Homo sapiens: one gene and its partners. The protein of the gene in region 4 purifies or fractionates together with the protein of the main gene of each other region. This does not show direct contact. Each region holds a gene or a part of one and is shown on either strand. Other genes may lie near its edges.

Evidence for each region.
Region 1: the proteins of TXNDC12 (region 4) and TUBGCP6 purify together in Homo sapiens (affinity purification with mass spectrometry; 2 studies listed by BioGRID and IntAct, with this or other methods). This does not show direct contact.
Region 2: the proteins of TXNDC12 (region 4) and TUBGCP3 purify together in Homo sapiens (affinity purification with mass spectrometry; 2 studies listed by BioGRID and IntAct, with this or other methods). This does not show direct contact.
Region 3: the proteins of TXNDC12 (region 4) and MZT2A purify together in Homo sapiens (affinity purification with mass spectrometry; 2 studies listed by BioGRID and IntAct, with this or other methods). This does not show direct contact.

Annotation. Positions count from the first base shown.
Region 1 is NC_000022.11:50,224,293-50,228,089, reverse strand, and holds part of TUBGCP6 (gamma-tubulin complex component 6), read left to right. Parts: intron 1-61; coding exon 62-183; intron 184-1,012; coding exon 1,013-1,091; intron 1,092-1,247; coding exon 1,248-1,357; intron 1,358-1,711; coding exon 1,712-1,803; intron 1,804-1,900; coding exon 1,901-2,040; intron 2,041-2,146; coding exon 2,147-2,296; intron 2,297-3,497; coding exon 3,498-3,579; intron 3,580-3,669; coding exon 3,670-3,758; intron 3,759-3,797. UniProt on the Homo sapiens protein: Component of the gamma-tubulin ring complex (gTuRC) which mediates microtubule nucleation.
Region 2 is NC_000013.11:112,521,923-112,525,719, reverse strand, and holds part of TUBGCP3 (gamma-tubulin complex component 3), read left to right. Parts: intron 1-3,210; coding exon 3,211-3,400; intron 3,401-3,797. UniProt on the Homo sapiens protein: Component of the gamma-tubulin ring complex (gTuRC) which mediates microtubule nucleation.
Region 3 is NC_000002.12:131,483,229-131,486,494, reverse strand, and holds the end of MZT2A (mitotic-spindle organizing protein 2A), read left to right. Parts: intron 1-313; coding exon of another isoform or gene 314-393; exon of another isoform or gene 394-471; intron 472-2,276; coding exon 2,277-2,434; 3' UTR 2,435-2,535; downstream 2,536-3,266. UniProt on the Homo sapiens protein: Required for the recruitment and the assembly of the gamma-tubulin ring complex (gTuRC) at the centrosome.
Region 4 is NC_000001.11:52,038,069-52,041,865, reverse strand, and holds part of TXNDC12 (thioredoxin domain-containing protein 12 precursor), read left to right. Parts: intron 1-268; coding exon 269-329; intron 330-3,797. UniProt on the Homo sapiens protein: Protein-disulfide reductase of the endoplasmic reticulum that promotes disulfide bond formation in client proteins through its thiol-disulfide oxidase activity.

The DNA of each region.
Region 1 (3,797 bases), on a different chromosome or scaffold from region 4:
GCCCTGGGCACGGCTGCGTCCATGTGCCTGGCCGCCCTCCTCCCAGCCTCTTTGCCCACAGGCCTTCACCAGTGGCCTGAGGAGGTACCTGCAGTATTACCGGGCCTGCGTCCTTTCCACTCCGCCCACCCTGAGCCTCCTCACCATTGGTTTTCTCTTCAAGAAACTTGGCCGGCAGCTCAGGTGAGCCTCAGCATGGCGGCTGAGCAGGGGACTTTGCGGGAGCGGTGTGGGGCTTGCTGGGTGGTGGAGGGTTTGCCCTGCTCCCTGGCAAGGAGGGCCTGTGAGAACAGCCCTCAGCAGGCGACCGGATGGCCCTTGGCCGGCCGAGTTCACCAGGTGCCCGGTGCTGAGCGGGTGTGTCTGCCGTGGGCCCACCACAGCTGGCCCCATCCAGGCCCTCCAGGTCCGGTGGCTCCTGCCTAATTGGCACACAGGGTCCCTGGAGATGTGGCGTCCGGTACACACAAGCTGGTTAGTGAGCAACCAGGCTCGGGGGCTATTGGCAGGTGCCATCAGAGAAGGAAGAGTGAGGAGCTGGGCATTGGGAGCAGTGGGAGAGGCGACCTTCCAGGCTGAGGAGCAGAGTGTGGCAGCGCTGAGGAGACCCAAGGGCTGAGACACTGTGGGGCAGGGGAGCTGGGCTGTGAAGGGTGCGAGTTGTGGCAGATGCTTGGTACCACTGTGTGGATGGGAGGGGCTCTCAGGTGCAGCCCCCAGAAGTGGGAGGATCAGGGTGATTCGTGTGTTGGCCAGATCCTGGGAGGGAGGGCCTGCTGGGTGTGGGTACTTCAGTGGGGTGTGTGTGGACAGCGCAGGGGCACAGGGCTGCACACGAGTCCTGCAGGGAGCCCGTTTCTGGGTGGTTGGGGTGCCTGTGGTTTTTAAAGCCTGCATCTAAAGTTAGTTGCCCCAGGGAGCATAAAGATACGTGGAGACTTTGCTCACGATCTGATCCAGGCCTGGGAACCCTGAGCCCGGTCACCTGGTCTCATCCTGCCTCTGGGTCTAGGTACCTGGCCGAGCTCTGTGGCGTTGGCGCTGTGCTCCCGGGCACCTGTGGAGGAGGCCCCAGGGCCGCGTTTCCCACCGTGAGTTGTGCGTCCCTGCCGAGTGTGTCAGCCTGGTGGGCTCCAGGAAACGGGGGTGGCTGAGCGTGTCCCTGGAGGGCTGCTGCCGGCAGGGCTGCGCCTCACTCCCAGCGCTGGGTGCGCTGAGCTGCCCCCCACCCCCTTTGCGGTCTGCAGGGCGTGAAGCTGCTGTCCTACCTCTACCAGGAGGCTCTGCACAACTGCAGCAACGAGCACTACCCTGTACTGCTGTCCCTGCTGAAGACCAGCTGCGAGCCCTACACCCGGTGGGCAGTGGGCTGGGCAGGCGCGGCGGGCGCGCACTCCCACCAGGCAGACACTTGAGAGCGGTCCCTTGTCAGACACCTGCTGAATGTGGGGGTCACACAGGAAGGGGAGGGCAGGATAGGTGGACTGGGCAGGAGCCCCCAACCCCCCACCCTGCCCCCACTCCACACCCCCCACCCTGCCCCCACTCCATCCCGCCCCTCATGGATGGCCACACCCCACTCCACCTCTCACAGCTACGCCCCCACTTGCCCCTCACTGACAGCCACGCCCCTGTCCCACCCCTCACTGACAGCCACGCCCCACCCACCTCTCCGTTGACCACATCTACCCCTGCTTTTCCCCCACTGCAGGTTCATCCACGACTGGGTGTACAGCGGGGTGTTCAGAGACGCTTATGGCGAGTTCATGATTCAGGTGAACCACGAGTACCTCAGCTTCCGAGGTAGGTGGCAGCTGATTGCGGGGCAGGGGTCCGTGCCTGTGGGCCTGGGTTCAGGGCCATGGCCATGCCGGCCACCGTGGTGTTCACCCTACCTTAGATAAGTTGTACTGGACACATGGCTACGTGCTCATCTCCAAAGAGGTGGAGGACTGTGTTCCCGTGTTTCTGAAGCACATTGCCCACGACATATACGTCTGCGGAAAGACCATTAACCTGCTGAAGCTCTGCTGCCCCCGGGTGAGGAGGGGCTCATGTGTGGGGAAGAGAGGGGCCGGTCTTCCCTGGGGCTGAGTATGAGGCTGGGGCTGAGTGCTGGTGGCTGTGCTTGCATCCCCTTTGGCAGCATTACCTCTGTTGGTCCGACGTCCCTGTCCCCCGGATCTCGGTGATTTTCTCCCTTGAGGAGTTGAAGGAGATTGAGAAGGACTGTGCCGTCTACGTTGGGCGCATGGAGAGGGTGGCCCGCCACAGCTCTGTCAGCAAGGAGGAGAAGGTGCGTGGCACCACAGGTCTCGGGGGCTTTCTTCGCCCCTGCCTCTGCTTCCTGGGGTCTCAGGTTGGTGGGGCGGACATGAGGGCTGTGCAAGATGGGGGCCTCCCTTCTGGCATTTTCTGTCCTGGCGGTGGCCTGGGTGGGTGCCAAGGGGGAGTTGAGATGAAGGGTGGGTGTCAACGGGGAGTTGAGATGAAGGGTGGGTGCCAAGGGGGAGCTGAGATGAATGTCCGGAGCCAGATGCCAGGCAGGGGCTCTGACTTCTCCTCCTGGGTCTGGGTGGCTCAGCCTGAAGCCCAGGCTTTGCTGGCGTGGGAAACTCCGTTGGGGCCTCCCCGGGCCCGCCAGCTGTGGACAGACAGTCCTGGCTGCACTCCAGATGGCCTTCGCCCTTTGCAAGCCCCCTTCCTGCTGGGAAGGGACAGTGTGTCAGGGACGGGCCACGCCTCTCCTGTGTCTTCTGGGAGGGGCTCGGTGGTACAATCAGTGCCATTCCCAGGAACACCCTTTCTGGCCTGGTGCCTGGTGGGCAGCAGGGATACTTGGGCAGGGGCAGGCCTAAGAGGCTGAGCGGGGAAGCCCCCTCTTGAGGCCTCTTGGTTTCCTTCCAGGGTGGGCACACACAGCCTTGGGGTCCTCAGCCCCAGATGTCTCTGTGAGAGCCGGTCAGCTCCCGTCCATGGCCTGGAACCAGCCTTGCCACTGCTGAGAGCCTGGGGGTGGGGGAGGGTGGGCGGGGGGGCGGTGTCCTGCCATCACCTGGTCCCTCCTCGAACCCTTGGACCATGTGTCTCCCCTGCCGGCCCTGAGTCCACAGGTGTCCTGGGCATCCTAGGTGAGGGGTCAGAGGATTAGGTTGCTTTTTTTTTCTTTGAGACAGGGTCTCACTGTGTCAGCCAGGAGGCTGGAGTGCAGCGGCTCGAACATGGCTCACTGCAGCCTCCACCTCCCAGGCTCAAGGGATCCTCCTGCCTAAGCTCCCCTGACCCCCGCCAAATAGTTGATACTACAGGCACCTGCCACTACACCTGGCTAATTTTTGTATTTTTAGTAGGGATGGGTTTTTGCTATGTTGTCCAGGCTGGTCTTGAACTCTTAAGCTCATGTGATCTACCCACCTCGGCCTCCCAAAGTGCCAGGATTACAGGCGTGAGCCACTGCGCCCGGCCAGGATGCTTTGATTACCAGTTGTCTTTCTCAGGAATTACGTATGGAAATTGCAAAACAAGAATTAATCGCTCATGCCCGGGAAGCAGCATCCAGGGTCCTGAGTGCACTGAGTGGTGAGTGGCCCCAAGTCCTCCCTTCTGCAGTTCCGGGGGGCCTTGCTGGGGCCTCCTTGTGACAGTGCGCCCCTTACTGTCCCAATGTAGACCGGCAGATGTCAGAACGGATGGCCTTGGATGCCCGGAAGCGTGAGCAGTTTCAGAGGCTGAAAGAACAATTTGTGAAGGACCAGGAGGTGGGTAGGACCTGTCCCTGCGGGGTCACGCCTGTCAGT
Region 2 (3,797 bases), on a different chromosome or scaffold from region 4:
CAGAATGTCGCATGAGCGTTCAGCCTGTGGGAAGTGCTGAGGCTTTCCCTCGTTCTCTTCCTTTTCCCCATTTGCCGCCTGCCCCACCCTCAGTAATTTCATGATGTTTTGTGTATGGCTAACTTATATTTATAGCTCTCCAGTTTTGGCTGTATTTGCTATTTATATTGTCATGGTTCATTCAAAAGATTTACTTTGCGTAGGACACTGTGGTAGCTACAGGAAAGAGACAATGACTTCACCATGACTGTTCCTTTCATGAGCTTATTAGTCTGGTCTTGGAGAGGAGATGTGTAGTAAAATAACCAGTAGTCAGTAATAAAGGTGAAAGTGATCAGGGACGTGAGATGTGCAGGTGAAGCGCTTTGGGTATTTTCAGGCAAGGCTCAACAGGAAGGCTTTGGAAAGAGGCAGGAATTGCACTGGCCATGGAGAAGGAGGAGAATTTGGTTGTGGGTTATTGCGCAGCCCAGGACAAAGGAATAATGTGCATGGAAGTGCAGAAGAGAAATAGGACGAATTAGACTTATCTAAAGATTGTAGTGAAAATAAAAAGTTATTATTTAATAATGTGACAGACTAAAGAGAGACAGACTAGGACCTCATGTAGGAAGCAGGATAGGTTACTGGGTATGGTTTTAGCTACAGGTGTTACTGGAATGACAGATGTTCTCTTAACAGGACTTGGCTCTCTGGACAGGAGGGCTGGGGATCAGGAAGAGTCAGTGATGGCACTAGAACTCTGAGCTCGTGAGGCCAAGTCGGAAGGGCAGCAGGGGATTTCGGGAGAGCATAGCACTGAGAGAGGAATGTCATTTCGGGCAATTTGGTTTTCAGTAGCTGAGAGGACTTACTAGTGGAAGCTTCCAGCATGTATTGGAAATGCTATACTGAAACTCTGGTTAAAAGTCAGGGCCGAATATAGAGATTTTGGAAGCACTTATCTCACCATGGTAACTCAGGACAAGGCAGGATGGTGTAGCAAGAGCTCCCGTGTGGTCCAGGGGAGACACCCTTTCCAGGCATGTGAGAGCCATGGGCCCTCTCACCCTAAAGCATTCAGACATAATTTTACATGTATTTTTTTGTGGGGGGGTACATAGACCCCAGATTGTTCCTGGAATAGAGATAGATGTGATCCAATATAGATTTTGGGGAAATGCTTCTACACTGAAGAGGTGGAAGGAAGAAGAACCAGGAGAGCAGTTGTGTTCGAGTTGTGACCTTTCATAGTTCCTAGAGAAGGCGGCGCACACATGGGCTGTGCCTGGGACAGGGCGTCCCCATGCGCCTGCTGTGCCGGAGGCTCTCCATGAAGGTTGCTGCTGCTTGTGTGAGCACCGCGTCTGCTGTGCTGCTGGCGGCCCCTGTACCCACCGCCCCACATCTGCAGATTCAATCAACTGAGGATCAAAAACACTTAAAAAAAGGCAGCCACTAAAAAAATACACAAAAAACCAAGACAATTTAACAGCTATTTGCATAGCATGTACATTGCGCTAGATATTATAAGTAATTTAGAGATGATTTACCGTATATGGGAAGATGTGTGTAGGTTAGGTGCAAATATTGCTTCATTTTGTAGAAGAGACTTGAGCATCAGGGAATTTTGGTGTCTGTGGGGGTCGTGGGATTGGTCCCCTGCAGATGCTGAGGGTGACGGGGCGCTGCTGCTGCTGACGCTGCTGCTTCTCTGTGACGACTCCTGTGGTCCCCGTCGTCCTGTCCATGGCTGCCAGGGTCTGCGGAGAGCAAAGTTTCTGCTGTTGAGTATTTATAGTATAACTGGGAAGACAGAAGATGCAAATCCTAAAAGACTCCTAGTAATGGTCAAAAAACAGGAGAACATGTCAAATTCATTTTTATCTGTGAAAAAGTTATGAAGATTTAAAAGTGTGAATAAAGAATAAATAGTGAAAATTTAAAAACTGAGCACGAGAGATGCCTCAACCCTGAAGGAGCAAAGAGAGTTCCGAGGAGGCTCTGGGTTCTGTGTCTTCATAGGCTGCTTTGGGCTAAGACTGATTCAAACCTTCTCTTTGGAATGAAAATTTTTAATGACTCAAACAAGGGTGTAATGAAAACATTTCTAGAGAAAAATCTTTATGTCATTAAAACTACGTAGATCAATGGAAATAGAACCCCATGCCCTTAAAACAGGACTGTGGTGAGCTCATCAAGGGGTTCCGTGGTGTCGTGACTCCAGGCAGACCTCACTCATCCTCAGATAACTACAGTTTCTTCACTGGGAGCATCTTAGTTGTTTGCTACTAGTGTGAAATTGGAATAATAGCAACACTAAAATAGGCCTGTCTTAACTGCTTTCTTATTCGGAAGGACAAACAAATCTTAAGAGTCTTCTGGTATATTTAAACTGGGTAACTCAGATAGTGGAAAGAGACTTAAACTCTGAATCAGAAGATCTCGCCTTTCTTGTCCTTGCTTAGTCTTCAGCTAGCGTTTTGCCTCCTTCTCTCAGTCTGAGGTTGTTCCTCCCACTGGGGTTATTGTCTAGCTTAAGTATTATTGTGGGTTTAATGAAATGAAGTATTCATATAAGTTTTAAAAATGGTTTTGTGCTTTGCAGATGTAAATCAGCACTGTAAGAAGCTCTGTTATGTGTATAGTCTCCACCTGCAATTTCTTCTCAATAGAAAGCTATGGAAATGCTTTCTTCCGCTATGTTACTGCTTAGAGTCAGGCGTCTTTATTGGTGACAATCTGGTTTTGTCCCCTAGACATCTCCACCAATCTCCGTAGAGTTCACTCTATGGTGCATGATACTACTACTCAACTTTTGCGAGTTGTACAATTCACAAAGCTTATTTGCATGTGCTGTTTTGGTCTTAAGACTAATTTATGGAAACATCTTATGGGTATGGACGGGTGACTCAGCACTGACTTGCCCTATTACCAGTGTGTTTTGGTGAGATTTACGGTTAGTTACAGTGTATTAAGGGATTTGGAAATCATGAAGACACACATGTAGGTGTCTGCTGTGAACCCAGCTGGCAGAATTGTTTTCATGTGTGTGGTCTTAGGGCTCTGGTCTCCTTTGTGGAATGTCCAGCTGTCTGTGCCTGCGGTCAGTCTGTTACTGATGCCACAGGCAGTGGTTGGCCCTGAGTCTGGATGTATGTGCCTTCATTTCTCCTCTGTGGAAATACAAATTACATATGCATGTGTGCTCTTCCCTGTTGTTCTTTACAGCTGCAGACCTATTCACAGACTTGGAAAATGCATTTCAGGGGAAGATTGATGCTGCTTATTTTGAGACCAGCAAATACCTGTTGGATGTTCTCAATAAAAAGTACAGCTTGCTGGACCACATGCAGGCAATGAGGCGGTACCTGCTTCTTGGTCAAGGAGACTTTATAAGGCACTTAATGGACTTGCTAAAGTAAGGCACTATTTTGATTTCTATAAATAAGTAATATATTTGACATGATAAGGAATCTTGTATTTAAAAGAATAAATTATATTAAAAGAAAATGAGTTGAATTCTTCGAGCATACTTTTTAAAATAAAATCTGAAAAGAATGTAAAATTTTCAAAAGGTAAAGCCCCTTCATTTTTCTCTGGTTATCAGCAGAGCATCATTGTCATGTTCTGTGCTTTATTCATAAGAGAAACTGGCATTTCTTTCCAAAACTGTGGGGCTTACAGTCTTCATGTATGAGGAGTTGGTCAAATCACACTTAACTTTAGCTTGAGTTTGAAATAAAGCTGAAAAATAAAATATATATTTTAAAGTTGAATTTTACTTTTATATTTGTAGTTAATGTTCACCTAAAAAT
Region 3 (3,266 bases), on a different chromosome or scaffold from region 4:
CTCTGAGTCAGGCCTAGGTGCACGGCCTGCCATGCTGCGTGCTGTGGGGAGCTGAGAGCGCATGGGCACCTAAGCACCCAGATTAGGCTGCGGCTACAGAAGATCTGACTGTCTGGCCTGGCCTGCAGAGGGACTGTGGCCTCAGAGGAGGATGCTGGCCCAGTGTGGGAGCTGCTGCAGGGTGGTGGGTCCCGTCTGCTCATGGAAGACAGAATCCTTGCCCCTTGACCAGTCAGTGGGGACTAGAATTATGGCAGTTTGTACCACAAGAGATGCGTGGTGGCTATTGTCTGCTTTGTGCCTTTTTCACTAGTCACTGCTGGGCTGAGGTGGCCAATCATCACCCACCACGTGTTCCTGACTGCGCTCCTCCTTGGCTCAGGGCAACCCTGACTCCATCTTTGTTCAGCCAAGTGTGACAAGCTGACAGAGTTCCCAGCATGACACCGCTGTAACCCTCACCACCACCAGGCAAGAATGAGCAAAGATCTCATTCTCTGAGGAAGAACTCCCCGGAAACTCATAAGGAGGGCCGTCCTATCCCTGCAGGGTATGGGGAGAATTTTGTGGTATTAGCATAGAAAGGGAGCTGGAGGTACCTCTGGAAGAGCGGGGGTCCACGGCATCTCAGACACAGGAGTCTCTGCTTGTTCAGGGTGACAGATGGTGAAACAAATGACCTAATGGGTCCCTAGACACCCGGTTGCATCTTTTCTCCAGGAATCCAGTTTCCCTTTGCAGGGTATTTGACTACACTTGATAAGAGGCCAGGGAAGGACCAGGATTGAGGCTGGGTGTTCTGTTGGCTGAACCCTTGTCTGGAGTCACCCTAAAAGTGATGGCAGGGGAGTTCCCACACGGGACTGCCCCAAACCTTTCCAAGATGAGAGCCAGTTGGGATTCCAAAGGAAGAAACACTTAATGCCAGGGTGGTCAGTCCAAAGCATTTGTTAGGGAGCTTATATACAGAGGGGGCTGCAGCGTGCCCTCACGAGGGACAGCCAGGAAAGAGGTTGTGCCTAGGCACACCGCACTGAGGGGGTGGGGTGTGGAGTTTCTATGAGGGTGCAAGGAATTTGGCTGGGGTGGGACCAGTTTCCACGTGCTTAGCAACACGTCAGATCTTTCAGTGTTCCAGGCAACAACCTAAACGTGTATCAGTGTCTGGGAACATGCAAGCCCCAGCCAGGGTTTGAGCCTGCAGGGGGAACATGTAGCTGATTAGGTCAGAGTGGTCAAGGCACTCCCTCAGTCAGGACAAAGGAAATGCTGGGGGGATGAAATGGGGGACCCAACACTGAGTCAGGCAGGGGACACACGCCCTGTTTAGAGCCCACGGGTCAGACCCCACCAGGCCAGAGCAGGGGAGAGCCCTGGCCAAGGCACTCCGCATGGGGGGCTGTGACCCCACGGGCAAGCCTGCTACCCGGGCACGTTTGTACCTTGGAGGGTCCTCTCAGTCTTGCCGATGCTGTCAACACCCTGAGCCCAGGGAAATGCATCCCATTAAAATAAAGCTCTGGCCCGAGTGTGGTTGCAGATTTTTCTTGGCTATCTTAAAGAGTAAAGTAAGCAAATTACAAATCAAAGAAACTCTGAACCTGTGGTCTTCATCCGAGAGAGCCTCTGGTGTTCAGAAGGAAAGTCTCAAGCGTTCAGACTGTGGCAGGAACCCTGTCATGGAATCTGGCAGCTAAACCCGAAAGCAAGAGGCTTGACCACTGCAGAACACTCGGGTAGGTAGGAAACAATGAAAGAGCTTCCAAAATCAAAATCAGAAACCCAATTCCAGGACTTGGTGACTGCAGTACTTCCTGCCTGTCACCATCTGGGGCAGCTCAGATGTGCAGTCCAGCGTGAACACACCTTGAGGATGAGGCAGCGCGTCCCTGCTGCTGCTGCTGCCGCTGATGGCACGATCAGGGCAGACTAGGTTTGCTGACCAGGCTAGGTGTGGACCACCACACCTACCTTTCCCTAAATGGGCCCGTGGCATGTGTCCTTTCAAAATGTTCCCTTGGCAGTGTGCTCCTTGCGTGGCTTCGCTCCTAGGACACATCCTAAAGGGTCCCCTGCACACTGCCAAGGGCTTCTGGGGCGTGACCTGTCTTTAGTGGTTCTGAGTCTCAGGACTTGGGGCTGATGCAGGGCCTCTAGCTGAAGCGACTTTGATGGAAATGTGTAGACACAAATGTTGCCCAAGGAGCACGAGTACAGCAGGTGCTGCATTTATGGGGCGCGTCCATTCCTAATCATTGTGCTTTGTGTCTCCTTAGGGAGAGACAAAGGCAGCGCTGCCCTCGGGGGAGTATTGGCCCTGGCGGAACGCAGCAACCACGAGGGATCCAGCCAGAGGATGCCACGCCAGCCCAGCGCTACCAGGCTGCCCAAGGGGGGCGGGCCTGGGAAGAGCCCTACGCAGGGCAGCACCTAGGATGGGGCAGAGACTTGTCACATCTTTGTCCCCAGCAAAGGCTACATGTTACCTCCTTCAGTTGATAATAAACCTTTCTGAGATGCAGAGGGTCCAGGTCAGATGCTCTCTACTGTTTTTTTTTTTTTTTTATATTAAGGCACACTTAGAATGAAGTTTCTGTGCCGGTCCTGGTTGTGCCACAGTGAACTAACCAGGTCCCTTCACCATGGGTCAACTTCCTGAACCTGATTTGGGTTCTGAGGAAAGGTGTCTGGATTGCCAGGTCTTTTATAAATAGACATCAACAAGCTTCACTTGGAGTGAAATGTGGGAGGTTTTTTGTTTGTTTGTTTGTTTGTTTTCTGAAACGGAGTCTTGCTCTGTTACCCAAGCTGGAGTGCAGTAGTGCGATCTTGGCTCACTACAAGCTCCGCCTCCTGGGTTCGCGCCATTCTCCTGCCTCAGCCTCCCAAGTAGCTGGGCCTACAGTGCCCACCACCACACCCGGCTAGTTTTGTTGTATTTTTAGTAGAGACGGGGTTTCACCATGTTAGCTAGGATGGTCTCGATCTCCCACCTCATGGGAGGTTTTCTACCAAGACAGTTGACAGTGCTGAGGGACAGGGTTGCTGTGTGTACGCACAGAGGGCGAACGCTGCCTTCCAGGTTACTGTGGAGCACTGGGGTCAGCATGGGTGTGTTGTGACCTTCTGTGGGTCACGAATGCTGTGCAGAACTCGGTTAATACTCTTTCCCCCTCTAAAATGTCCTGACCTTACACATTTGACCCACAGCTTTAGAGACTTCATGGACAAGCCCCATCCACAGACCTCCAACACTTCTAGTCTCC
Region 4 (3,797 bases):
TAGTTTACAAAGCATTTAACGTCATTTTTAAATTTAGCCTCCTTTGAAACTGTGAATTAGGTGGTGGTGTCTCCATTTTGCAGGTATGAAAACTGAGGCTTGAGGTATGGTCCCATACACCTAGAAGGTGGTGGAGCTGGGACTTGAACACCAAGCTCTTGACAGAAGAAAACCTTCTTAGTGGGTATCTTGTGAACATGCACACTTCCTTCTTGGGACTGTGCCCTTTGTTCATTATGTGAATGCTTATAAAGTTCTTTCCTTCCAGGTTTTGGAGATCATATTCATTGGAGGACACTGGAAGATGGGAAGAAAGAAGCAGCTGCCAGGTACAAGACATGGTTTTAGGTCATTTATGGTGGTAAAACACTTTTCAGCTATCAACTTAACGTTAATTTCAGGTGAAGGGCTATACCAAGGCAGAGCAAGAACTGAATAGTTGCCTAATTACAACAACAGCAATAATAATGGCTAACATTTATAGTTGAGCCTTGAACAACATGGGTTTTTTTTCTTTTTTTTTTTTTCTTTTTGAGATGGAGTCTCACTCTCTCGCCCAGGCTGGAGTGCAGTGGCACGATCTCGGCTCACTGCAAGCTCCACCTCCTGGGCTCACGCCATTCTCCTGCCTCAGCCTCCCGAGTAGCTGGGACTACAGGCACCCGCCACCACGCCTGGCTAATTTTTTTGTATTTTTAGTAGAGACGGGGTTTCACCGTGTTAGCCAGGATGGTCTCAATCTCCTGATCTCATGATCCACCCGCCTCGGCCTCCCAAAGTGCTGGGATTACAGGCGTGAGCCACCGCGCCCGGCCTTTTTTTTTCTTTTTTGAGACAGAGTCTTGCTTTGTCACCCAGGCGGGAGTGCAGTGGTGCGATCTTCATTCATTGCAACCTCCACCTCCCAGGTTCAAGCAATTCTTGTCAAGCCTCAGCCTCCCACGTAGCTGAGATTACAGGCATGTGCCACCATTGCCGGCTAATTTTTGTAGTTTTTAGTAGAGACGGGGTTTCACCATGTTGGCCAGGCTGGTCTTGAGCTCCCAACCTCAGGCGATCCACCTGCCTCGGCCTCCCAAAGTGCTGGGATTACAGATGTGAGCCACCACGCCCGGCCAAACAACATGGGTTTGAACTGCACAGGTCCACTTATATGTGGATTTTTTTCAGTAATAAATGCATTGGAAACTGTTTTGGAGATTTCAAGCAGTTTCAAAAAACTTGCAGATGAACAGCATAGCCTAGAAATATCAAAAAACTTAAAAAATTGGTATGTTACAAGTGTAAAAATATATGTAGGTATTAGTCTATATTATCATTTACTACCATAAAACATACAGAAATCTACAAGTTAAAATTTATCAAAACTTCTGCACACTGGCTGGGTGCGGTGGCTCATGCCTGTAATCCCAGCACTTTGGTAGGTTGAGGCGGGCAGATCACTTGAGCCCAGGAGGTTGAGACCAATCTGGGCAACATGGTGAAACCCCTTCTCTACAAAAAATACCAGTTACTTGAGGGGGCTGAGGTGGGAGGATCAATTGAGCCTGGGAGTTTGAGGCTGCAGTGAGCTAAGACCATGCCACTGTACTGCAGCCTGGAAACAGAGTGAGACCCTGTCTAAAAAGCTTCTGGCCAGGCATGGTGGCTCACGCTTGTAATCTCAGCACTTTGGGAGGCTGAGGCGGGCAGATTACCTGAGGTCGGGAGTTCAAGACCACCCTGGCCAACATGGTAAAACCCCGTCTCTACTAAAAATACAAAAATTACCTGGGCATGGTGGTGTGCACCTGTAGTCTCAGCTACTAGGGGAGGCTGAAGCAAGAGAATCACTTGAACCCGGGAGGTGGAGGTTGCAGTGCGCTGAGATTGCACCACTGTACTCCAGCCTGGGAGACAAAGCGAGACTCTGTCTTAAAAAACAAAAATAAAAAATAAAAATAAAAATAAAAAAATAAAAAACTTCTGCACACAAACACCTATAGACCACACATGCTGCCATTTGCAGAAGGGAGAAATGTAAACAAATGTAAAGATGCCATATTAAATCATAACTGCATAAAAATTAACTGTAGTATATAACATTACTAATAATTTTGTGGCCACCTCCTGTTGCTATGGAGGTGAACTCAAGTATTGTGAGTATCCACTTAAAATGCCGTGCAACATTAATCATCTTCAGTGAGCAGTACGTCTCTCCAGTGTATTGCGTATCGCAGTATAACGTAGTTTCTCAGCTGGGCGCGGTGGCTCACACCTGTAATCCCAGCACTTTAGGAGGCCGAGGTGGGTGGATCACTTGAGGTCAGGAGTTCGAGACCAGCCTAGCCAACATGGTGAAACCCTGTCTCTACTAAAAATACAAAAAACTTAGCTGGGCATGGTGGGCGCATGCCTGTAATCCCAGCTACTTGGGAGGCTGAGGCAGGAGAATCGCTTGAACCTGGGAGACGGAGTTGCAGTAAGCCAAGATCACGCCATTGCACTCCAGCCTGGGAGACAGAGCGAGACTTGGTCTCAAAAAAAAAAAAATTAATCTCTTACAACTCTTGCATATTTTTCCTGGTATTTAGTACAATATCATAAACCTAGAATAACACCATGAAACCCATACAAGGTGCCATTGGTGATGCTGGAAGTGTTCCCAAGAAGCAGAGAATGCTCATGACATTACAAGAAAAAATTGAATTGCTTGATATGTACTGTAGACTGAGGTCTACACAGGTAGTTGCTTGTCGTTTCAAGATAAATGAACCCTTTTTTTTTTTTTTTTTTTTGAGACGGTGTCTTGCTCTGGCCTGGCCAGATGAATCCATTTTGAGAGTCTGAGGCAGGAGGACTGATTGAGCCCAGTAGATTGAGACCAGCCTGGGCAACAAAGTAAGACCCTGTCTCTACAAAAAAAAATTTTTTTAAAGATAAATCCAGCGTAAGGACCAATTGCGTAAAAAAAAAAAAAAAACAGAAAAAGAAAAAAAAAAGAAAATTCATGAAGTTGTCACTGTAGCTATGCCAACAGGTGCAAAAACCTTGCACTTTTTGCCAAATGCCTTTTTATGTGCATAATATGTAGCTTTTACATGGGTACTATAAAAAGGCATACCTATTGACTCTAATATGATTTGAGAAAAAGCAAAGTCATTATATGGCAACTTAAAGCAAAAAGAAGGTGAAGGATCTAAAGCTGGAGTATTTAATGACAACAAATGATGGTTTGCTGATTTTAGAAAGAGGTTTGGCTTAAAAAATGTCAAGACAGGCTGGGCGCAGTGTTGCCCGTAATCCCAGCACTTTGGCAGTCCAAGGCGGGTGGATCATTTGAGGTCAAGAGTTTATGACCAGCCTGGCCAACATGGTGAAACCCCGTCTCTACAAAAAATACAAAAACTAGCTAGGTGGTAGTGGTCCATGCCTATAATCCCAGCTACTTGGGAGGCTGAGGCAGGAGAATCGCTTGAGCCTGGGAGGCGGAGGTTGCATGAGCCGAGATCCCCCCACTGCACTCCAGCCTGGGTGACAGAGTGAGACCCTGTCTCAAAAAAAAAAAAAACAAGATACAGGAGAAGCAGCTTATGCTGACCAAGAGGCAGCAGATGAATTCTCAGACACCGTTAAGAAAATCATTGAAGAGAAAGGATATCTGCCTGAACAGGTGTTTAATGCAGATTAAGGTACCCTACTCTGGAAAAAAAAAGCCACAAAGGACATTAATAGTAAGGAAGACCAACCTGGGCAACATGGGAAACTCTGTCTCTACAAAAAGTACAAAAATTAGCTGGGTGTGGTGGCACACACCT